7 linked regions of the Homo sapiens genome follow. The protein of the gene in region 1 purifies or fractionates together with the protein of each later gene. This does not show direct contact. Each region holds a gene or a part of one and is shown in the gene's direction. Other genes may lie near its edges.

Region 1 (3,500 bases):
GCAAAAACCGCCAGGCACGGTGGCTCAAATGCCTGTAATCTCAGCACTTTGGGAGGCCGAGGCTGGCAGATCACCTGGGGTTGGGGGTTTGAGACCAGCCTGACCAACATGGAGAAACCACATCTCTACTAAAAATACAAAATTAGCCAGGTGTGGTGGCGCATACCTGTAGTCCCAGCTACCCTGGAGGCTGAGGCAGAAGAGTCTCTTGAACCTGGGAGGCGGAGGTCGCAGTGAGCTGAGATTGCGCCATGGCACTCCAGCCTGGGCAACAAGAGCGAAACTCCGCCTCAAAAAAAAAAAAAGAAAAAAAATGCAGAAACCTGTCTCAATGTTTAACTGGGCATTTTTCAAACTAGGGGACAAAAACTAGAACTTGCCACTTTTATTTAAAGTGATGCTCTTATTTTAGACCAATCTGACCTTCGTTGGCTGCGTGGGCATGCTGGATCCTCCGAGAATCGAGGTGGCCTCCTCCGTGAAGCTGTGCCGGCAAGCAGGCATCCGGGTCATCATGATCACTGGGGACAACAAGGGCACTGCTGTGGCCATCTGTCGCCGCATCGGCATCTTCGGGCAGGATGAGGACGTGACGTCAAAAGCTTTCACAGGCCGGGAGTTTGATGAACTCAACCCCTCCGCCCAGCGAGACGCCTGCCTGAACGCCCGCTGTTTTGCTCGAGTTGAACCCTCCCACAAGTCTAAAATCGTAGAATTTCTTCAGTCTTTTGATGAGATTACAGCTATGGTGAGCATGTTTGAACATGTACAGGTGACTCAGGCTACACAAGCACATAGTAGCCTCTAATTTTGACCACTGAATTTTTTTGTCATAGCTCCCTAATTTGGAATTTGTCATGATTTGGGTCTTTTCTCTAGAATTCGGTGAATCAGTGGTTAGCATGTTGTGTGCTACTTGCAGGGAAGATCCTAGAGTCGTTTAAAACCCAGAAGGGCCTTCCAGATCAGTCCCAGAGGAACAATCTGGTGATCTAGTCTCTTTTTTAAATGAGACGTGTTTTTATTGTAAGTTTTCTGAAAATTGAGGATGTAATCAGTCAGTTGTTTGGATCACCCTGCTTTTAAGTTCTTTAAGAGCTGGCTATTGATGAAGCATTTCCAGTATTCTTCCCCTCACCTGATTTTCACCCAGATACATTATGTTAAATTTACTTTCTTCTCTTTTAAAAAAAAATCTTAGTTTTGAAACATACTATAAGTGTACTCTCCTCTCCCCCAGAGGTAACTGAAGTTGGAATTTAGCAAAAATATTAAAAACATGGGAGTGCTGTTTTTGTGTCTGTAGACAGTATTATTTTTGCATGCTTTTGAAGGCATATTTTTTGGCCGAGTGCAGTGGCTCATGCCTGTAACCCCAACACTTGGGAGGCCGAGGCAGGTGAATCACTTGGGGTCAGGAGTTCAAGACCAGCCTGGCCAACATGGTGAAACCCCGTCTGTACTAAAAATACAAAAAATTGCTGGGTGTGGTGGTGGGCGCCTGTAATCCCAGCTACTCGGGAGATTGAGGCAGGAGAATCGCTTGAACCCAGGAGGCGTGCAGTGAGCCGAGACTGCGCCACTGCACTACAGCCTGGGCGACAGAGCGGGACTCCATCTCAGAAAAATAAAAATTTGCATATTTTTGCAATCTGCATCTTTCTACTTGAAATTTATCCATGTGGATACAAGTGCTTCCTCTTGACTGCCACATAGGTTGTGTTTTTGTTTTTAGTAAGATAATACAGATAAATTTGAAGTCCCCTTTGTCCCACTTCGGTAAACTTATTTGGTAATTTTACATTTCCTAGGTAAAATGTGTTTTGTGACACCAACTTATGAAACAAAAATTCTAAAACTCTTTGCCAAGAGACCTACGGCTCTATTCATTTTCCTCCTGCTTCCCATTCAGTGGGCTTTTGCCTAGGGGTATGAATGTGGCATGCCAGTTGGCTGACCCAACCATTGCTTTCCCTTTCAGACTGGCGATGGCGTGAACGATGCTCCTGCTCTGAAGAAAGCCGAGATTGGCATTGCTATGGGCTCTGGCACTGCGGTGGCTAAAACCGCCTCTGAGATGGTCCTGGCGGATGACAACTTCTCCACCATTGTGGCTGCCGTTGAGGAGGGGCGGGCAATCTACAACAACATGAAACAGTTCATCCGCTACCTCATCTCGTCCAACGTCGGGGAAGTTGTCTGGTAGGTCTCTGTGACAGCATCACTTACTGTACGCCTTTATCTAAATGGGTCATGGAGCCCAGTTCTCGCAGTTTGCTCTCCAGATTGCAGCAGCTTTGGTCTTTGTGCCTGAGTTGGAAGAGGGGAGTGGGCAAGACAGAAATGCCTTATGGAAGCAGTGGTGCTTTGGCCCTCGGGAGGGTTGTCTGCAGCTGCCCCAATGTGCAAAGAATCCTCTTTAACGTGAGACTGAGCTAACATTAACCAGGTAGTCACATGAAATTCTTGCCCTCCAAAAGTTGGCTTTATCTCAGTCAGCTTAATAATTTTTTTATTTTTATTTATTTTTTTGAGACAGTCTCGCTGTCGCCCAGGCTTCGGGCAGTGGCACGATCTCAGCTCACTGTCCCCTCCACCTCCTGGGTTCAAGCCTCCCGAACAGCTGGGATTACAGGCATGCGCCACCACTCCCTGCCATTTTTTTGTGTTTTAGTAGAAATGAGGTTTCACCATGTTGCCCAGGCTGGTCTCTTAACTGCTGAGCTCAGCCAGTCTGCCCACCTTGGCTTCCCAAAGTGCTGGGATTACAGGCATAAGCCACCGCACCTGGCCTCAGTCATCTGAATTTAAGTAATAAACTAAGTAAAATTGAGCTTTAATTCAAAATTGGGTATAAGTATTTTACAGATTACCTGAAGTTGTTGTCATTTATTTTTCTGGAGGAGGGCGGGTTGATGATGCTCTTTAAATAGTGGCCAGAAGTCATTTGGGCTCTCTTTGTCTTCTTTTCTTGATTGGAAACAGTATTTTCCTGACAGCAGCCCTTGGATTTCCCGAGGCTTTGATTCCTGTTCAGCTGCTCTGGGTCAATCTGGTGACAGATGGCCTGCCTGCCACTGCACTGGGGTTCAACCCTCCTGATCTGGACATCATGAATAAACCTCCCCGGAACCCAAAGGAACCATTGATCAGCGGGTGGCTCTTTTTCCGTTACTTGGCTATTGGCTGTGAGTACAATTTTTTTATATTACTGATTTTTAAACAAAATGTTTGTGAGCTGAAATTTTGTAAATTCATCCCTTAAAAGCGTGTTTTTTCTTCTATCCCCGTATAGGGTAGCAAAAGACAGAGATGCCCTCTTACAGTTCGATGAACTATACATCCAATTTACCAGAGTCCTTTCACAGTTAGTTCCAGTTTTAGCATCCTGCCCTTACTTGGGCTTTTCTGAATGAGCAATTAAACATCAGGGTTTTCAGATTGAGCCCTCTGTGCAAAGGGATAAGAATGATTCACGCTAGGTTCTGCCTTCCAAGAGT
Region 2 (3,500 bases), on another chromosome or scaffold:
TGCAGTGGCACGATCTCGGCTCACTGCAAGCTCCGCCTCTCGGGTTCATGCCATTCTCCTGCCTCAGCCTCCCGAGTAGCTGGAACTACAGGTGTCCGCTGCCACGCCCAGCTAATTTTTTTTTTTTTTTTTATTGATCATTCTTGGGTGTTTCTCGCAGAGGGGGATTTGGCAGGGTCATAGGACAATAGTGGAGGGAGGGTCAGCAGATAAACAAGTGAACAAGGGTCTCTGGTTTTCCTAGGCAGAGGACCCTGCGGCCTTCCGCAGTGTTTGTGTCCCTGGGTACTTGAGATTAGGGAGTGGTGATGACTCTTAACCAGCATGCTGCCTTCAAGCATCTGTTTAACAAAGCACATCTTGCACCGCCCTTAATCCATTTAACCCTGAGTGGACACAGCACATGTTTCAGAGAGCACAGGGTTGGGGGTAAGGTCACCGATCAACAGGATCCCAAGGCAGAAGAATTTTTCTTAGTACAGAACAAAATGAAAAGTCTCTCATGTCTACTTCTTTCTACACAGACACGGCAACCATCCGATTTCTCAATCCTTTCCCCCTTTTCTATTCCACAAAACTGCCATTGTCATCATGGCCCGTTCTCAATGAGCTGTTGGGTACACCTCCCAGATGGGGCGGCTGGCCGGGCGGGGGGCTGACCCCCACTCCTCCCTCCCAGAGGGGGCGGCTGGCCAGGCAGAGGGGCTCCTCACTTCCCAGTAGGGGCGGCCGGGCAGAGGCGCCCCTCACCTCCCGGACGGGGCGGCTGGCCGGGCGGGGGGCTGACCCCCCCACCTCCCTCCCGGACGGGGCGGCTGGCTGGGCGGGGGGCTGACGCCTCCACCTCCCTCCCGGATGGGGCAGCTGGCCTGGTGGGGGGCTGACCCCCCCCCCAACCTCCCTCCCAGACGGGGCGGCTAGCCGGGCGGGGGGCTGACCCCCACTCCTCCCTCCCGGAGGGGGCGGCTGGCCGGGCAGAGGGGCTCCTCACTTCCCAGTAGGGGCGGCCGGGCAGAGGCGCCCCTCACCTCCCGGACGGGGCGGCTGGCCGGGTGGGGGGCTGACCCCCCCACCTCCCTCCCGGACGGGGTGGCTGCTGGGCGGAGACGCTCCTCACTTCTCAGACGGGTCGGTTGCCAGGCAGAGGGTCTCCTCACTTCTCAGGGCTGCCGGGCAGAGACGCTCTTCCCCTCCCAGACGGGGTCGCGGCCGGGCAGAGGCGCTCCTCATATCCCAGACAGGGCGGCGGGGCAGAGGCGCTCCCCACATCTCAGATGATGGGCGGCCGGGCAGAGACGCTCCTCACCTTCCAGACTGGGCAGCCAGGCAGAGGGGCTCCTCACATCCCAGACGATGGGCGGCCAGGCAGAGACGCTCCTCACTTCCCAGACAGGGTGGCGGCCGGGCAGAGGCTGCAATCTCGGCACTTTGGGAGGCTAAGGCAGGCGGCTGGGAGGTGGAGGTTGTAGCGAGCCGAGATCACGCCACTGCACTCCAGCCTGGGCACCATTGAGCACTGAGTGAACGAGACTCCGTCTGCAATCCCGGCACCTCGGGAGGCCGAGGCCGGCGGACCACTCGCGGTTAGGACCTGGAGACCAGCCCGGCCAACACAGTGAAACCCCGTCTCCACCAAAAAAATAGGAAAACCAGTCAGGCGTGGCGGCGCGCGCCTGCAATCGCAGGCACTCGGCAGGCTCAGGCAGGAGAACCAGGCAGGGAGGTTGCAGTGAGCCAAGATGGCAGCACACAGTCCAGCCTCGGCTCGGCATCAGAGGGAGACCATGGAAAGAGGGAAAGGGGAGACCGTGGAAAGGGGAGAGGCAGAGGGCAGAGGCAGAGGCAGAAGCATTTTTTGTATTTTTAGTAGAGACAGGGTTTCACCGTGCTAGCCAGGATGGTCTCGATCTCCTGACCTTGTGATCCGCCTGCCTCGGCCTCCCAAAATTCTGGGATTACAGGCGTGAGCCACTGTGCCTGGCCTGTAAATTGTTTTATAGAGATGGGGTCTTGCTGAGTTGCTCAGGCTGGTCTTGAACTCCTGGGCTCAAGTGATCCTCCCACCTGGGCCTCCCAAAGAGCTGGGATTACAGGCGTGAGCCACCGCGCTCAGCCCCACACATGGGTTTCAAGCCCCTTGCAACCACCCAGCCAAGTCCAGCAGAGAGACAGGCAGCTCGTGAGCTCCACTCAGCATCTCTCCATCTGTCCCCTGGCAGTGTCACCCGCAACTACCTAGACTGGCTCACGTCCATCCCTTGGGGCAAGTACAGCAACGAGAACCTGGACCTGGCGCGGGCACAGGCAGTGCTGGAGGAAGACCACTACGGCATGGAGGACGTCAAGAAACGCATCCTGGTGAGCCCAGTGTCTGGCCTGTTGTGGATTTGCATGTGGGTGCCCGGGCCCAGGACTCTTGTGTGCTGTGGGTTGAGATTTCAAAGGAGCCCCCTGGTGAATTCGTAGGCCTGGGGGTGCTGGTCGGGGGGATCCCGGCGGAGGTAGCATCCTGCCCTGCCCCCGAGGGCTCGAGGATTTCCCAGGTGGACTGAAGTCATGCCTGACGGGCCGGGCATGGTGGGGCTGCTTGTAGTCCCAGTTACTCAGGAGGCTGAGGCGGGAGGATCACTTGAGCCCAGGAAGTTGAGGCTGTGGTGAGCTGTGATCATGCCACTGCACATCAGGTTGGGTGACAGAGTGAGACCCCCATCTCTACAAAAAATTTTAAAATTGCGGCTGGGCGCTGTGGCTCATGCCTGTAATCCCAGCACTTTGGGAGGCTGAGGCATGCAGATCACCTGAGGTCGGGAGTTGAAGACCAGCCTGACCAACATGGAGAAACCCCATCTATACTAAAAATACAAAATTAGTTAGGCGTGGTGGCGCATGCCTGTAATCCCAGCTACTTGGGAGGCTGAGGCAGGAGAATCGCTTGAACCCAGGAGCCAGAGGTTGCAGTGAGCCCAGATCGTGCCATTGCACTCCAGCCTGGGCAACAAGAGTGAAACTCCGTCTCAAAAAGGAAAAAAAATTTTTTTTAATTAGCCTGGTGTGATGTTGCGTGTCTGCAGTCCCAGCTACTTGGGAGGCTGAGGTGGGAGGACTGCTTGAGCCCGGGAGGTGGAGGCTGCAGTGAGCTGTGATGCACCACTACACTCCAGCCTGGGTGACAGAGCGAGACCTTGTCTGAAAATTAATTAATTTTAAATTAATTTTTAAAATATCACTCCTGAGACATTGGAAACCAGGCAGGCAGGTGGGAGTCAAAGGTTAAAAAACAGGAGTCAGAGCCTGGGCATGGTGGCTCACACCTGTAATCCCAGCACTTGGGGAGGCCGAGGCGGGTGGATCACAAGGTCAGGAGTTCGAGACCAGCCTGACCAACATGGTGAAACCTCGCCTCTACTAAAAATACAAAAAAAGTAGCCAGGCATGGTGACTCACACCTGTAATCCCAGCTACTCAGGAGGCTGAGGCAGGAGAATTGCTTGAACCCAGGA
Region 3 (3,050 bases), on another chromosome or scaffold:
GGGCACATGGTTGCTATGGTTATGGCGTCATGTATTTATAATGGAGAGATACTTTGTCTTCATTAATCTACAAACTTGCCAGTGGGATTCGGTATTTTTTTTCTGTGTGTGTGTGTGTGTTTGTGTGTGTGTGTACATACGTACGTACGTACATGTATACAGCTTCTGCATGAAAACACTGAGGCTGAACAAGGTGTTCTGTTTTGGTGGTAGTGCAGAGAAACATACTCACACATAAATTATTTATATGTGAACCAATTCAGTGAGAAGTAAGTACAGCTGCTTAATTGACCTAAGGGTCTTATTTCCAACTGCTTAAAAATAAGTGTAAAGTGAAGTTCATGGAAGAAATAACTTAAGGCTCTTTAATATACTTTTGTTGGTGAAGAGAATTTCAAGCTGTTTCAGTCAGTTAGCATATATTCTTAAAAAGACTGATATCCTATTCGTAGTCTTCTCTTATATATCCTTGAATTATCTTCCATGATTTTTATATTTTATATACTTATAATAGCGTATTATAACAACTTAATGCTACATAATTTACAGTAATCGTTTCCAAATTAAGGAAGCCCTATGTGTAAAATCACAAATTTATGTAACATAACACAGGAACTTTTATTCATATAAGAAAATCATTATTCACTTTACTGTTTTCCTTTATTTCAGCATCATTTATTACAAAATTAATACTGTTTTCGAAAAACCAAAACAATATATTATAAAGCACAACGTGGAGTCTTCTCTCACCTCCTTGTCATTCCCAGCCTCAAAGGGTAACCACTGTTTACAGTTCAAGTGTGTCTTCACAGCAGATGTTTTTCTATGCTCGTGCAGACATATAGATGTATTCCTGGAAAGAGTGATGCTTGCATTCTTGAGGAGTTAGGAGCATTGCTATTTGAAAAAATAAAAATCCAGTTTGATGATGTTAGTCATTATGCTGAAAGGAGTGATTTTAACAAATACCAACAGAACTTCTTGTGGTAGGCCAGCTTTCCAAGTTACTGGTTCAAGAGAACAGTCATTTTATAACAGGTATAAAATCAAAGACGTTTAGTAAAATATTTTGCCCTTAATTCTCCATGGATAGCTTGTTTATGAAGAGTTCAGTATTCAGGGAAGATGGAAAAACAGCCCAGTGTCAGCTAAAGTAATAAAACCGACTTAATCCCAAATTGACAATTTAAAGCCCTTTAAAATTACTTGTTGCAAACAAGAAATAATCCACCCAGTCTGTCATCTCTTTTCAGCTTATTAGTAGTGGAATCTCTTAGGTGGCTCTTTAAACCGTGTGTATTAAAAGTCCTAAAGTTGTTCGTGGAGATTTCCAGTTGCTAGGGAATACCAACACTTATTTGGTGTTTGATATTGTAAATCATGATAGTTATTGGGGCCAAAGGGAGGTCTGTAAATGTCCAGTAGGTTCTCTTTGGAGCTAATTTGTGCTGTTTGCATTTTCTTTCTGCCCCAATACACTTGTCACTGGAAGAAATCACACAGGGGGTAGGGATAAAGCATGAGGTATCATGATTCCTTCATGTAAAAATTTTGCTCAAATTAAAATGTGAACATAGTATAATATGTAAAAAAAACTGGACCTCCTTAAATCCTTTATAAAGCAAGGCAATGTGTAAACACATGAATAAATATGAAGGTTTTATTTTAAGTAATAGCTGTGAATGTTAAAAGTAATATTATTTTCCTTAGAATAGTTTAATCACATATCCCTTTTAAATTTTTTAAGCCTTTAAACGTTTTATTTTCAGTCTGGGCTTGGGGACTCACACCTGTAATCCTAGCAGTTTGGGAGGCTGAGGCTAGGGGATCACTTGAGCCCAGGAGTTTGAGACCAGCCTGGGCAACATAAGAAGACCTCATTTCTGAAAAAAAAAAAAAAAAAAAAAAAGAAAGGGAAGAAAGGGGAAGGAAGGGAAGGAAAGGGAAGAAAAAAACGAAAAGAAAAGGAACAAAGGAAGGCGTCGGTGATGTGCACAAGTGGTCACAGCTACTTGGTAGTCTGAGGTGGGATTGCTTGAGTCTGGAAGATCGAGGTTGCAGTGAGCCGTGTTTGCACCACTGCACTTCAGCCTGGGCGAGAGAGTGAGACCCTATTTCAAAATAAATTCAAATTTGAATATTTTACTTGAGTAACATTTTTTTTCTCCTGAAAATAATTTTCTACAGTGTTCTACTGTGGTTGAGGTTTTCATGTTTAAATCAGATCTCTAGCCTCATGGGACTCATAGTCTCTCATGGAAGACAGATAATTGGGCAACTACAATGGATTATGCCGAGTTCGGTGCTTTGGGAGCTCAGAGCACAAGCCCCTTCCTCATCTGCCCTGTAGGGCTGGGGAGGTGCTGTCAAGGAAGGCTTCCCAGCGGGAGTGATTCCTCAGGTAATAACCTGAGATTTGTACACACATCAGTCAGGCAAAGAGCTGTGGACTTGGGGTGTGAGTGGCCAGAGACCCAGCATTATCTGCAAAAGCTAGACTATGAGAGAGATGAGAACACAGTTAAGTAACTGATAGAAGTTCAGTCTGGCTGGGGCATGGAGGAATTACAAACATTTATTATGAAAGTAATACATGTGCATTGTATAAAATGTGAGAAAAACAGAAAATGAGAAGGTATATATTATTGCCAGTTTCATGCTGCAGAGTTAACTACTGTGAACATTTGTTGCATTTTTATAATTCTTTCCATTTATATTCGTAGAACAGCGTATTTGATATTATCCCAGTTTGGCTTAGACAATAGATATATATACAGGTATAAAATGCATATGCATACATGAAAACACATAATAAAACTGGGATCATGCGAACATGCTGTTACCTGCTTTTTTCATATTACAGTATACTTAAATATTTTTAATGTCCTTAGATGCAATTGTATTTTTAGTAAGTGAAATATTTTAAGTTGCACTATTTCATTTCTGTGAGTAAAAAAAATTCTTGAAGTTAAGCATCCTGACTCTGTCTGCAGGAGGAATGTTTCTTGAACCTAGAGGCTCCTATATCAAGAGTATGTGGTTATGACACA
Region 4 (3,500 bases), on another chromosome or scaffold:
GTAGTTTAATTTCATTTTGGTGTATGCAATTTTTTTATTCAATAGTGCCTGCTAATCAAAGCAGTTATTTGGTGTTCTGTTTCAGAGCAGAATAAAAAATTGCATTGACTATTAGAATAAACCTAAAAACCAGGATGTTTTATTTCTGAGATAAATGCAAAGTACTAGATCATCGTATTATGAATATGAAAACTTAACAAAATTCAGTTTTAAAAAATACCCTATTCTTTGCCTGTTATCAAATGTATAATTTAATGTTTTTATATAATTTAACATTTTTATATATTGAGTTGCTTGTAATCACAAATAAATACAAATACACATTTTTTTTTTTCATTGAAATCCCAGGTTGTAGCTGCTTGTGCCATGCCAGTAATGAAGGGTTGGAATATCCTAACAAACTCAGAAAAATCCAAAAAAGCCAGGTACTTTATTGTTATTCAATGTAGTACCCTTTCATAAAGCAGAAAATTGCACATTTTGGTATTTAGACCTTCCCATAGATTAAGAATTTAATATCAAACTCGGAAGAAGTTGGTGTGCTCAGCTTCTAGGAGCAATAGAAGTGAGTACTACATAGTAGAGAAGGTGAAGTCAGGAGTTTATGGTATTGAGCTTTAGGATCAGCATTAAAAATCCTTCTTTAGTAACTTGCTCAACTTGTGAAGAAGGGTGAATCTGGACTTACTAAGCTACTACTATACTATACTGGGATTGATTGTGTTTGTTTTTATTTTGAATTAATGTGAATATTTTCTGAGGACCATTCAGCAACTTTTGATCATTCGGTATTGTTAAAAGTTACAATTTTCTTTATTTTTTGAAACGAGGTCTCACTATGTTGTCCAGGCTGGGCTTGAACTCCTGGCCTCAGGTGATCATCCTGCCTCAGCCTCCCTCCCATAGTTCTGGGATTACAGACGTGAGCCACCAAACCTGACCAAAAATCATAATTTTCTATGTTCTCTAATGATACTTTATTCTAGGCTCCTCTAAGCATTTTCCAGATTGTGTGTTTAATACTACCAGAATGATACTCGGGAGGATCACTTGAGCCCAGGAGCTCGAGTCCAGCCTGGGCAACATAGCAAGACCCCGTCTCTTAAAAAAAATATTACCACAATGATAGATAATTGGCATTTCTGATATTAAATGTAAAATTACTATTAATTGTATAACAAATATACATCTATGAAGGTTGTTTAAATGGCCTATATGTGGGCCTGGCACAGTGGCTCACGCCTGTAATTCTAGCACTTTGGGACGCCAGGGCGGGAGGATCACTTGAGGTCAGGAGTTCGAGACCAGCCTGACCAACATGATGAAACCCTGCCTCTACTAAAAATACAAAAATTAGCCAGGTGTGGTGGTGGGCATCTGTAATCCTAGATACTCGGGAGGCTGAGGCAAGAGAATCGCTTGAACCTGAGAGGTGGAGGCAGGAGGCTGCAGTGAGCCAAGATTGTGCCACTGCACTGCAGCCTGAGCAACAGAGCGAGACACCATCTCAAAAAAAAAAAATAAAGTCTATAGGTCATTTTGAGTGCCAGCAGTTAATGTCAGTGTGTGTGTATTTGAGAGTCATTTTATATGTTACAATTTTCATACAGGGAAGGTGTGATGGAGTTCTTATTAGCAAATCACCCATTGGACTGTCCTATTTGTGACCAGGGAGGTGAATGTGATCTGCAGGTATGTAGTAGAATTCTGTCAATCTTTTTGGTTGTCTCAGATTTTAATTTTATTAGCAGCATGAGATTGACTCTTTCATAATCTACTTAAGGACCAGTCCATGATGTTTGGAAATGATAGGAGCCGATTTTTAGAGGGGAAGCGTGCTGTGGAAGACAAGAACATTGGGCCATTGGTAAAGACCATCATGACAAGATGTATACAGTGTACTCGCTGCATCAGGTAACTTTTTTTCCTTTTTTTTCTATTATAGAATATAATTGTATACTTAATAGTCACAATTTGATGAATAATAACATTGGAAAGAATGGCTACTTTTTTTGGGTGGGAGAAGAGGGATGCTGTTTCTGATATATGAATAAAATAAGTTCACTTTCATTTAGTACCAACTTCAGGTGGATTTAAAAATTAAAATCTATAAGCATTTGCTTTCACTCATAACTTGGTGAGTTGTACACATATGATTTGTACAAGTTTCTGCCTGTGTGTTACACCTCAATTAAATGCAAACATTTCATTATTTTTTATTCTAGGACTGTGCTCACCTTTAAAAATATACTCATTTCTTTTTAGTGTTTGGAAAATCATCTCTTTGTGATCATGAATAAGAAAGGAAATAATTTTGCTGGACTTGACCATTGATGACACATTTTTTATCTTGTAGGTTTGCAAGTGAGATTGCAGGAGTAGATGATTTGGGAACAACAGGCAGAGGAAATGATATGCAAGTTGGCACATACATTGAAAAGATGTTCATGTCTGAACTGTCTGGGAATATCATTGATATCTGCCCTGTAGGTGCCCTAACCTCTAAGCCCTATGCCTTTACTGCCCGGCCTTGGGAAACAAGGTATCTTTTATTTTATGACAATTTGTTTTTTTGTCCTTAATTCATTACTATTCAAAAAAATATTAAGGTTCATTTTCTTCCTGGGTTTCAGTTGTTTTGGTCTGTTGACTTTGTTTGTTTATGTAAAACCCTTTAAATAGAAGGTAAGTAGTTAGAATGGATTGAACCTGTGCAAATTAACTGTAGTTTTCTTGGAAATTAATTCTAAAGTACTCAACCACAAAATTATTTTTTTCATGTGTTCTTCCAAAGAGTTTAATAGTGTTGACATTTTAAATGTATAGTCTCCCATGTTGTTGTTTATTAAGTTTTCAACTATGAGGAATGTCATTTAGCCAGTTTCTGCTAATAGACATTTAGCTTGTATATTTCTTTATGATTACAAATCTGTAAAAAATATTGCTGTTTACACATTTCTGTGTATATCTCTCATTCTCCTGATTAAACCAAGAAATGGAGTAGATAGATGCAAGAGGTGTGATTATTTTTAAGGTTCTTAAAACATAACAAATTATCATCCAATTTTAAACTTTATACTTTTCAACTTGGGATTTGGCTTTTTGTTTCTGTGTAATTTCTGTGTCCTTACTGAGAATCTCTACTTGCTGATTCGTGGTTGTCATACATCCCCTTCAATTTTTAAATATGATTTTCTTTGGTTCTTTCAACATATTTTAATATTCTTGGTTTTATTTTTAAGTGAGGCTTCTTAGGAGTTCCCCTGTGTCTGCATAGTTTAGTAGTCAGGTATAATTGTACTTCAAACACCGTGACCTAATAAGAGTTATGTTCTTTGCCAATGGATCTGTTTGTGGATGGAGGAGCATATTCAAAGTTGAGGCTGTTTTCAAGTTTGCCCAGCTATTACTTTGCACTGGGCCCTTTGGGTCTCAGAGTTATCCAGGAGTTTATGAATAGGTTGAGCTTTCTCTGGTTTCACCTGCACATGTAGCAGCCT
Region 5 (3,500 bases), on another chromosome or scaffold:
AAATATCTATATTAATTGAATTATAATTTTACTATGCATGTAATTCACTTGCACTGGTTTTGCTTTTACTGTGAACACTTTACTGTCATTAACTATACTTAGAAAATACTATTTTTAAAAAGTATATAATATTCATTTGTGGATATTATAATTAATTTACTATTCCCTCATTTTTTGATATTTAGTACTTTTAAAATAATGTTTAATTACAAATTGTAATTTAAAAACAAATATTAATTTCATTTAATATGCATTTCTTCATTTGAATTTACAGAACTGGGTTTATAGGCCCAAAAGGTCAACGAATTTTCCTCATTCTCAGAGGAGTCCTTGGTTCTACCGCCATGATGCTTATATACTATGCTTACCAGACAATGTCCCTCGCTGATGCCACAGTTATCACGTTTAGCAGTCCAGTGTTTACGTCCATATTTGCTTGGATATGTCTCAAGGAAAAATATAGCCCTTGGGATGCTCTTTTCACCGTGTTCACAATCACTGGAGTGATCCTTATCGTGAGACCACCATTTTTGTTTGGTTCCGACACTTCGGGGATGGAAGAAAGCTATTCAGGCCACCTTAAGGGAACATTCGCAGCAATTGGAAGTGCCGTATTTGCTGCATCGACTCTAGTTATCCTAAGAAAAATGGGAAAATCTGTGGACTACTTTCTGAGCATTTGGTATTATGTAGTACTTGGCCTCGTTGAAAGTGTCATCATCCTCTCTGTATTAGGAGAGTGGAGTCTGCCTTACTGTGGGTTGGACAGGCTATTTCTCATATTCATTGGGCTCTTTGGTTTGGGGGGTCAGATATTTATCACAAAAGCACTTCAAATAGAAAAAGCAGGGCCAGTAGCAATAATGAAGACAATGGATGTGGTCTTTGCTTTTATCTTTCAGATTATTTTCTTTAATAATGTGCCAACGTGGTGGACAGTGGGTGGTGCTCTCTGCGTAGTAGCCAGTAATGTTGGAGCGGCCATTCGTAAATGGTACCAAAGTTCCAAATGAAGCATCATTGCTGAAATACATATTTTTTTCAAGTACACCATCACCTAATTCACATACAGCATACGCACACATCTGGAAAATCTGCATTTTCTTCATTGGTTGTATTTAATAAATTGCCTAAAGTACCATTTTTGAATATAGTATGTCTTTAGTTAAGAATAGCTAGTCTGTTTGGTGTAACAATTTTTTGGTAGCTTTGGTTTTGGTTTTGGTTTTTTTTGTTGTTGTTGTTGGGGTCAAGTTGGTGAGAGGAGAGCTCATTGTTTGAAGAAAAACCAAAACATTTTATGGCTAGTAATATTTATGTAATTTTTAAAATGTATTTTTGGTACTGATGGGATATGGGTGGGGAGGCTATTTTAGATATTCTTTTAGCAGTGTAGAGCCTAAGAAACTTGGTTCTACTACCATGATCTTTATAAACTATGCCTTCCAGACAATTGATAATGCTGCTATAATTAGTATTATGTTGATAATTCATTTGCAACCTTATTCTATTTAGGAGGATGAAGTTGAAGCTTAGAATAGGTGCCTGCTTAATGGTGTTAATAATACAAATGAATTGGCCTTATTTTCAAGGATTTTATAAATGATTATCATACTTGTAACTCATATTTGTGCCTTTTCATTTTAATGCTGGAATTTTTATTATGTCACCTCTAAAACACTTAAATTGCCAAATTTGGCTAGTAGTTTTGTTTCAGTGGCATTAGCAACTGCAGCTAGCATACTATAATTTTAATTGTCCTCACTTTTTTTTGAAACTGCACTAAATTTTTCTTAACATTCCAAGATTTCAGATCTCTAAATCACAAAGAGAAATCTTGGCATGACCAGTGTGCACGTTTCCATCCTGAAGTGTTTTCTCTTCACTAGAAATGTGATTTTCTATAAATTCCCCTTGAATTTATAGTGTGATGCCAAATAAAATTTTCTCAGGATCTTATTAGGTTGAACCATATGTAATTGCCAAGATTTTACTATTTTAACTTAGAAAAACCATCGTTTCATATGATTCACCCTAATAGATACCTCCATTATTCTCTAAATGAAATAGAAGACTTTGGAGTATATGTTTTTAAAGTAATTTTTTAAAATATGGTAATGTATTAAACTTATTTTTATAGTTATGAAATTATGTGTAATAATGCTTTATGTTATACATTAAATGTAAAGACTTGTGAATCCATGTTTGATTGACTTTCATAGTTTCCTGCATTGAAATAAAATCACTATGAATTCTAGTTTATCAGCATGATGTTAAATGTCAGTGCCATACCATGATGCAGCACCATGACACTAACGCCATGAATTCAAACAGCACGTTTTACACCTGGAACTTCATCAGACCAATACTTTGCAGTTAGAGAGAATTTAATATCTAGAAAAGCTTGGGAGGTTAGTCAGGACTTAGGGAGTATACATAAATGGTTACTTGTTGTAATGAGCCCTTTATTGGTGAGGTTGCAATAGCTTCCAGCTCTTACTGTGTCAGATGAAGCATCTGTCATTATCTTAAGCCTGCAGAGTTGAAAGGTTATAGGCTCTTTCCTACCCTCTCATCATAATTTTTCCAAAGCAAAGAGGAACTTGGCTTCTGGGGTTCGTGCCTTAGTGAGAAAGAATCTTTTCCAATAGTTCCAATGGGGGAATTTTTGGCTTGCTGATTTTATCAATTGCCTTGACACCTGACAAACCCTAAATGAAGTCTATGTAGGTGAGTCATCTCTGTTCCACCTGATTTACAGTATTGGAATTTAGACTTGCAAAAACATCATTCTGCAAATATCTTAGATAATTACAGAATCAGGAGCATTTGAGAACTCTAGAGGTCTCAGAAATCATCACATAGGGGCCATGCTTCGTAGATAGGGATGATAGAGAGGAGACCTGCCCAAGTTGAATTTCCATGGCCTTCCTCCCTTCCTTAGTTCCATGATAAAGTATGGACAGTAAACCACTACTTGAGCTACCTAAGGTGAATTAACTCTCAGGGAACCCTCTTCCAGTTCTTTACCTTGCACAGTGAAAGAATCAGTGGCACCTAGAAAGTTAAATCCCTTTAGGCCCATACACTAGAGACATGTTTTGTTTGAACAATGTAGTTTAAGTACTTGAATGTCACACTATATAACTGAGGTTAGAGAAAATGTTTCTTCTAGCCCTTACAGGGTGTGATTCTTAAACACAATGTCCAAGGTGTATACAAGGATATGTATTGTAACAACTATGGGTATGTATATTTTGCAGAGCGTAGTTTCTATATCTTGAAAAGGAAAATATTTTCATAAATTGTTTTTATAAGTACTAATAAAATAATATGAAAGAAAGCTATATGTTGGTTGTTATGATTATAGCAAATATATAACTTATTTCCCTTTCAACCCTATGCTTCAAAATATATTTTCTGTAGGAGATTGACCTCTAGCCATTCAGCTGGGATATAATCTCAAAGTTTAAACTGTCTGACCCACTTGTACTATCAAG
Region 6 (3,500 bases), on another chromosome or scaffold:
TCACTACATAAAGCCATACTTTTTTCTTAGAGCGTTTCCTCCTTGCTTCATCTATTTGATTAGAATAATAAAATTGATTATAATAAAATATCTATCTCATGTCTCATAATAGAAGGTGTTCTGTAGTTTCTATTGTTGTTTACAACTTAAATACTGGCTTTTGTTTAAGATTTTTAGGTAAGATTTTCTTTCCAAAGGTCATTTCTAAAGTTATTTACATTAAAAAGTTATTTACATTAAAATCGACTTTAAAAAAAGTTAACATTTATATATATGTTATTTTTCATAAGCATTTCTAATGACCATTTTTTTTGTAATGACCATATTTTTTTTAAATTTAGAGTTTCTCCACCTGGTGGTGATTTTTCTGATCCAGTTACATCTGCCACTCTTGGTATCGTTCAGGTATGTCTTTCCCTAGTATAGTCAACTTCTGAGCCTTTCCTCCTCTCTGCAGCCCCTGCTGTTCTAATGCGATCTAATGTAATCGTTGTGAAGTATTTAATTTAGTCTCTAAAGGATAGGCAATGGTAAAGTCTGGTTTAGAAACACTCTTAACACAGAGCCTTTAATACTGTCTGTTTTTTTCTTAGCTGTTTACATAGGATTTATAATAAACTTAATAATATATAAGTGGAAAATATAGGTAGCAAAAATTTTATTAGTATTAGAGTAGTATTATCCTTTAAGTCATAGTAACCCTAGTTATAGAAACAAAGAGGCCCAAAAATGTGTAATACCCAGAAGTTATTTCACTTCACAGTATGATCCAAGGCTCTCTTCTGTTTAGTGATAATTCTGAGTCCAGGATTCTTTCCATCTTGTGACTCCACTGTCACCTAGCCTGGTGATCATCTGCATCTAGCTGACACAAGGGAGCTGGGCCTTGTGGAGAAGGCATACCCACCTTTTTTGAACCTTGGATTCAAAAGTGACACAGTCACTCCACTCATTCTATTAGCCACATCCAGGTGAAAGCAAGGCTGGAAAATGCAGTTTCTGCCTAAGCATTTGCTTTCCAGTGACAAGACATGAATTTTAGTGGATAGGTAGCCAGCTTGGCTATTAAAAGAAGCCCAAATAAAAGATGTGTACAAATCAGAGCTATAGTTAAAAAAAAAAAGTGATATGTGTATATTATTCATGTGGGAAAAACAGAATATTTACTTGTGTTTCTGACAGTATCAGAGAAAAGGAAATGTCAGAGGCTAAATGTACAACTCTCAAGCTTTTTAACGTTTGCTAAAATTTTGAGTTTTAAATTATGGGGAAAGAGGGAACAGAGTTAGAAATGCATGGAATATCTGTGAATGTTTGCCCTTACAAAAATCACTGTCAGTTGTTGTTGGATTGGCCCTGTGAATGATAGGCAACTAAATTTAATCAAAACACTTAGATGTTTTTGTTTTGTTTGTTTTGATACGGAGTTTCACTCTTGTTGCCCAGGCTGGAGTGCAATGGCACAAACTTAGCTCACTGCAACCTCCACCTCCCGGGTTCAAGTGATTCTCCTGCCTCAGCCTCCCAAGTAGGTGGGATTATAGGCACCCGCCACCACACCTGGCTAATTTTTTGTGTTTTTAATAGAGACAATATTTCACTATGTTGGCCAGGCTGGTCTTGAACTCCTGACCTCAGGTGATCCACCCGCCTCAGCCTCCCAAAGTGCAGGGATTACAAGCGTGAGCCACCATGCCTGGCCCAGAACAGTTAAAAAAAAAATTTTTTTTTTTTTGAGATGGAATCTCACCCCCATCATGCAGGCTGGAGTGCAGTGGCGTGATCTCAGCTCACTGCAACCTTCATCTTCCGGGTTCAAGCAATTCTTCCTCCTCAGCCTCCCAAGTAAGCTGGCATTACAGGCATGCGCCACCACCACGCCCGGATAATTTTTGTATTTTAGTACAGACAGGGTTTTGCCATGTTGGCCAGGCTGGTCTCGAACTCCTGACCTCAGGTGATCCACCTGCCTCAGCCTCCCAGAGTGCTAGGATTACAGGCGTGAGCCACCATGCCTGGCCAGTTAGAGGTTTTTAATCAAAGTAAAGTGTGTATTCGATCTACATAAACCTTTTCTGGTTCTATTGTACCATAATAATTTTCAAAAGAGTAAATTAATTTTTCTTTTTGCTTTTGGATTTGGCACAGTATTAAGAAAATAGAGGTAAATTTTAAATTCGATTTGTAGGTATTATGCACTTGGAAAATGAAAGGAAATAGATTATTGTCATTTTCTGCAAGTTTTATTCTGTTTTAATTTTACTTAGTATATACTAAAACGATGTATAATTTGACCAGTGAATTGTAGAATTGCATATTTAGGGGTCAGGCATGGTGGCTCATGCCTGTAATTCCAGCACTTTGGGAGGCCAGGGATCACATGAGGTCAGGAGTTCGAGACAAGCCTAGCCAACATGGTGAAACCCCATCTCTACTAAAAGTACAAAAATTAGCCGGGCCTGATGGCGCATGCTTGTAATCCCAGCTACTGGTGAGGCTGAGTCAGGAGAATTGTTTGAACCCATGAGGTGGAGGTTGTAGTGAGCCGAGATCATGCCACTGCACTCCAGCCTGGGTGACAGAGCAAGCCTCTGTCTCAAAAACAAAAAAAAAAGAATTGCATAGTTGGGACAAACATGCTTCGGTATTTTTTAACTTTGTTTTTTGAGAAAAATTACTGTTTTTGTGTGTGTGTTTTTTTTAATCAGGTGTTCTGGGGCTTAGATAAGAAACTAGCTCAACGTAAGCATTTCCCCTCTGTCAATTGGCTCATCAGCTACAGCAAGTATATGCGTGCCTTGGATGAATACTATGACAAACACTTCACAGAGTTCGTTCCTCTGAGGACGAAAGCTAAGGAAATTCTGCAGGAAGAAGAAGACCTGGCAGAAATTGTACAGCTTGTGGGAAAGGTGAGTTGTTAAATTCCATGGAAGATAGATCTGTGGGTTACACTGGGGTGTTTCAAGGACAGATAGAGCCTTGGATATTACAGATTCTTGCCTAGCAAAATAAATATTTATTAAATATTTTTAATTGAAATTTTCTATTCATTATAGTACTTAGCATGGTTTTTGGGTATATTGTATGTGAGAAAGAAACATTTGATTTACTTTTATCTTGAAATGGAATATACCCATCACCAACCAAATTAGAGGTAGTAGATTTAGGATTTGTTAGCATACATTTTTGTAGGAATGCTAGGGCTAGGTTTCAGAAGGATTGGCTTCTAGTTCCTCCAATAATTAGCTATTGGCCTTAAACAGGTGAGTTACATTCTTGTGCCTGTATCTTGGATTCTTCAAGGAAAGATGGTGTAATTAAATTTAGGCAAATTAAATGCCAGAATGAAAAGACTTCTCAGATAGTATGCAATGCTAGTTAGTACTCAGAGTTCTTTGTCTGGTTTTGTTCTTTTTATTACATGTTACAAAGTCATCTCCTAATTTATTCCAAAAAAGGTTAATATTAGGAGATAGCTAACATTCTAACATGTATTA
Region 7 (3,500 bases), on another chromosome or scaffold:
TGGGGAAGTAGGATTCCGGATAAAATATAGGATGTATGGAATATTTGAGACATACTAAAAATTACTTCTTGTTTATCTAAAATTCAACTGGACATCCTCTATTTTATTTGCTAAATCTGGCACACTATCTGGAAGATAGCTCCACTTTCCTGTCTCCGTCTTCTTATCTTCTGGCCTGTAGATGTCTCTGTCCTGGAGGAGAGGTCTAGCTGAGAGCTCAGGGTCAGAGTCTAGGGTTGCATCTAGGTGCTTTGCTGGTGGCCAAGCATGTCCCCAAGGTAGGGTCAGGCAAAGCAGAAGTTGCGTATAAATCTCCATGTTGGATTCTGAGGAACTGATCATGAGGTTTTCCCTCCTGGGTGAAAGAGAAAGCTCTTCCCCAAGTGAGAGACATTTTCTCTTAGTTGTCCTTTGCCCCACCCTGTGACAGGTCTCCTGTGTCATCTGGATGATGCATGCATCAGCAATCCTTGCCACAAGGGGGCACTGTGTGACACCAACCCCCTAAATGGGCAATATATTTGCACCTGCCCACAAGGCTACAAAGGGGCTGACTGCACAGAAGATGTGGATGAATGTGCCATGGGTGAGTAAGCAGAACTTTTTCTGTTCTGTGAAGTGTCTGTTGAGCTCAGCAAATGTTTAAACTGAAGCACATTTTACTGTAGAAGCAAATTACATACACCCAAACCTCAGATTACTCTTGCTACATGGCCAGTGTTTACAAGTGACCTTTCAGCATAGCCATAACCATATATTCCATTCTGGGGATTAACTGTATGAAACGTATGTACTTGATTCTTAATATAAAGCCCTACCTCAATGACAGTTTGGGCAGAAACTGCAATAGCAGAAATGCATAACAGTTGAGGATACTCCGCTTTTATTTCTTTTTAAATTAAGGAAAAAAAAATAGAAAATTGGGAATGATATTATTGAAGGCCTGGCCCTGATGCTATAACCATCAGATGCTCTTCTATTGTTCACATTTGTGGAAACTCAACTGCTTTGATCCCAGTAATTGGTACTTGTGTCTTTCAGCCAATAGCAATCCTTGTGAGCATGCAGGAAAATGTGTGAACACGGATGGCGCCTTCCACTGTGAGTGTCTGAAGGGTTATGCAGGACCTCGTTGTGAGATGGACATCAATGAGTGCCATTCAGACCCCTGCCAGAATGATGCTACCTGTCTGGATAAGATTGGAGGCTTCACATGTCTGTGCATGCCAGGTAAATGGGCCCATCAGCATGTTGGGTCTAGAGAGGAGGGACTGTTCTGAACTTCTCTTGGTAGAGCATTCAGTATACTATTGCAGTCTGATGAGCTCTGTCAGCATTTGATTTCCTTTGCTGACTGGGGACTAGAGGAAGTCAGGGTTCACAAGCAAACCTTCCTTACTCAAAGAGTAAGGCAGTGCTAGAATTCATCAAGCTATGTAGACCAAATTAAACAAGCCTGTTATATCAAAATCCACATGTAATAGAAAATTTCAAAAATGATTTACTGTAAGAATCCTTTAAATAGCAAGTTTTCCTGATACCTTCATGTAATTACAAATACCATACCATTCCATTTATATAAATAAATTTTATCCACAATTATATAGGAAGTTTCCATTTATCTAAAGTGCAGTACATGTTTAGTTGTATTCTGGAGCTCTTCTGCATAGACCATGTCTTTAATTTTGAGAGGATACAGCCAAATCCAGCTTGAAATGATGGCTAACATTGGCTGCTCTGCCTGATTAAGGCTGCCGGCCACTCCAGCCTTGAAAGGCACTGCTGACCTTGAACTGCACCCTGAAGGCAACAACAGCTCCAGCTCAGCTTGTCTTTAGGAACATAGAGTGGGGACATTTTGGGCCTTCCACAGTCCAGAAAGTATGGATTTATCACAGAAAATGTGGAGCAGTCCTTGTTTATATGCTAGGTCTTGCCAATGTCTTTTAATGTAATCCCTTCCCGCTTTTCACAGTGACATGGGTATTTCACAGTATGCCCTGTCCTGCTTGACACTTGGAGTGACTATTTCTCATCATGGCAGAGTTCCTTTTTTCTCTGCAGAAATGTGTGTACTCGCAAAGGATGTAGTTATCATTGCAAATTTGTGCTTCCTTGTCTGGAATACACCTTTCTCTCTCTTTAAGCCACTTGTGTGGTCTGTTTTGTTTAGGTTTCAAAGGTGTGCATTGTGAATTAGAAATAAATGAATGTCAGAGCAACCCTTGTGTGAACAATGGGCAGTGTGTGGATAAAGTCAATCGTTTCCAGTGCCTGTGTCCTCCTGGTAAGTGCCCACGACCTGGCCCTGTTTTCTCTTAAAGCACAAAGCCAACTGACCACAGGGAAGAGAGCAGGGAGAGAATGTGTGTGGGCTGTGCATGAGGAAATCATTAGAGTAAGTGCTTGGTGATAGGAGTGTGTGTGTACAGAAATAGAGAATTTGTTTTAGCTACTATATCTTACAAGTCCTTTGTGGCCAAAAGTCCAAGTCTATTCTTGAATGGCCCATGACCTCTTCGTCTGTGTATATATTTCAGAATGCTCATACCTCACAGAAGCCTTAGTTGTAGGCTATTCGGGATTTTATTTTTTTCCCATGGGTCATATTCTTGAAGGCCCTCTGTGAGACTGTTATTTTTAGACATTTCACCCATGAGTTCAGAAACAGACAACACATGCCAATTTTTCCAAGATTCTCTGTCTCTCCTTTTTTTTCCTCAAGCTATTTTTGAAGATATGCCAAATTGTCCTCCATAGATTGCATCTTACCCCATTGTATCTTCAGAGAGAAGGTTTCTGTTGCCTCTGAAGCTACAGTTACTTGTTTGAGGTTCCACCTATAAATTTCACTTCCTACATCCTTCATTTAGAAGTGAAGTCTGTCTGTGAAGAAGCAATGGTAGAGACACACCACAAGTGCCTCTGATTCCCTGAGTGTCACCTGGTTATTCCAGTTACCTGTTGGGGAGAATAATAAAGCATAGGCTTATTGACCCATTGGTATAAGCCCTGCTAGTAACCTAACATCATTCTCATGGTAAAGGGAGACACAAGATAATCCTTTGACTCATGTTACCACTGTCCCTTTTTGAGGTTTCACTGGGCCAGTTTGCCAGATTGATATTGATGACTGTTCCAGTACTCCGTGTCTGAATGGGGCAAAGTGTATCGATCACCCGAATGGCTATGAATGCCAGTGTGCCACAGGTAAGATTCTTCTCACTTTTCATCTCCTTGGTAGGTCCATCTGAACAAAATAGGGTGATTGTCCCTGTCCTCTGCTAGCTGCTGTGCCAGGCCAGTCCACTCCCAGAGGCTCCTCTGTGTTTAGGAAGAGCTGTTTCTAACAAATTTTTTGCTGCTCTCTTTTTCTGCAGCACCTGCCTCCTCCACCACAACAGTGGTCTGGCCCAGATATTTCCATTTGGTATCCATGTCTTTCTGGGACAGATTTTGGCAGCAGTAAGTTTCCAGCTGGCTAGATTGACTCATTTAGG

Evidence for each region.
Region 2: the proteins of ATP2A2 (region 1) and LONP1 fractionate together in Homo sapiens (co-fractionation; one large-scale study listed by BioGRID). This does not show direct contact.
Region 3: the proteins of ATP2A2 (region 1) and BCKDHB fractionate together in Homo sapiens (co-fractionation; one large-scale study listed by BioGRID). This does not show direct contact.
Region 4: the proteins of ATP2A2 (region 1) and NDUFS1 fractionate together in Homo sapiens (co-fractionation; one large-scale study listed by BioGRID). This does not show direct contact.
Region 5: the proteins of ATP2A2 (region 1) and SLC35G1 purify together in Homo sapiens (co-immunoprecipitation; one study listed by IntAct). This does not show direct contact.
Region 6: the proteins of ATP2A2 (region 1) and ATP6V1A fractionate together in Homo sapiens (co-fractionation; one large-scale study listed by BioGRID). This does not show direct contact.
Region 7: the proteins of ATP2A2 (region 1) and NOTCH2 fractionate together in Homo sapiens (co-fractionation; one large-scale study listed by BioGRID). This does not show direct contact.

Annotation. Positions count from the first base shown.
Region 1 is NC_000012.12:110,340,247-110,343,746, forward strand, and holds part of ATP2A2 (sarcoplasmic/endoplasmic reticulum calcium ATPase 2), read left to right. Parts: intron 1-412; coding exon 413-748; intron 749-1,981; coding exon 1,982-2,202; intron 2,203-2,985; coding exon 2,986-3,188; intron 3,189-3,500.
Region 2 is NC_000019.10:5,699,647-5,703,146, reverse strand, and holds part of LONP1 (lon protease homolog, mitochondrial isoform 1 precursor), read left to right. Parts: intron 1-2,219; coding exon 2,220-2,358; intron 2,359-3,500. UniProt on the Homo sapiens protein: ATP-dependent serine protease that mediates the selective degradation of misfolded, unassembled or oxidatively damaged polypeptides as well as certain short-lived regulatory proteins in the mitochondrial matrix.
Region 3 is NC_000006.12:80,340,671-80,343,720, forward strand, and holds part of BCKDHB (2-oxoisovalerate dehydrogenase subunit beta, mitochondrial isoform 1 precursor), read left to right. Parts: exon of another isoform or gene 1-1,970; intron 1,971-2,993; coding exon 2,994-3,050. UniProt on the Homo sapiens protein: Together with BCKDHA forms the heterotetrameric E1 subunit of the mitochondrial branched-chain alpha-ketoacid dehydrogenase (BCKD) complex.
Region 4 is NC_000002.12:206,145,945-206,149,444, reverse strand, and holds part of NDUFS1 (NADH-ubiquinone oxidoreductase 75 kDa subunit, mitochondrial isoform 1 precursor), read left to right. Parts: intron 1-348; coding exon 349-425; intron 426-1,610; coding exon 1,611-1,692; intron 1,693-1,783; coding exon 1,784-1,914; intron 1,915-2,356; coding exon 2,357-2,542; intron 2,543-3,500.
Region 5 is NC_000010.11:93,900,478-93,903,977, forward strand, and holds the end of SLC35G1 (solute carrier family 35 member G1), read left to right. Parts: intron 1-274; coding exon 275-1,013; 3' UTR 1,014-3,347; downstream 3,348-3,500. UniProt on the Homo sapiens protein: May play a role in intracellular calcium sensing and homeostasis. May act as a negative regulator of plasma membrane calcium-transporting ATPases preventing calcium efflux from the cell.
Region 6 is NC_000003.12:113,795,535-113,799,034, forward strand, and holds part of ATP6V1A (V-type proton ATPase catalytic subunit A), read left to right. Parts: intron 1-341; coding exon 342-405; intron 406-2,708; coding exon 2,709-2,912; intron 2,913-3,500. UniProt on the Homo sapiens protein: Catalytic subunit of the V1 complex of vacuolar(H+)-ATPase (V-ATPase), a multisubunit enzyme composed of a peripheral complex (V1) that hydrolyzes ATP and a membrane integral complex (V0) that translocates protons.
Region 7 is NC_000001.11:119,965,163-119,968,662, reverse strand, and holds part of NOTCH2 (neurogenic locus notch homolog protein 2 isoform 1 preproprotein), read left to right. Parts: intron 1-430; coding exon 431-586; intron 587-1,041; coding exon 1,042-1,230; intron 1,231-2,173; coding exon 2,174-2,287; intron 2,288-3,096; coding exon 3,097-3,210; intron 3,211-3,500. UniProt on the Homo sapiens protein: Functions as a receptor for membrane-bound ligands Jagged-1 (JAG1), Jagged-2 (JAG2) and Delta-1 (DLL1) to regulate cell-fate determination.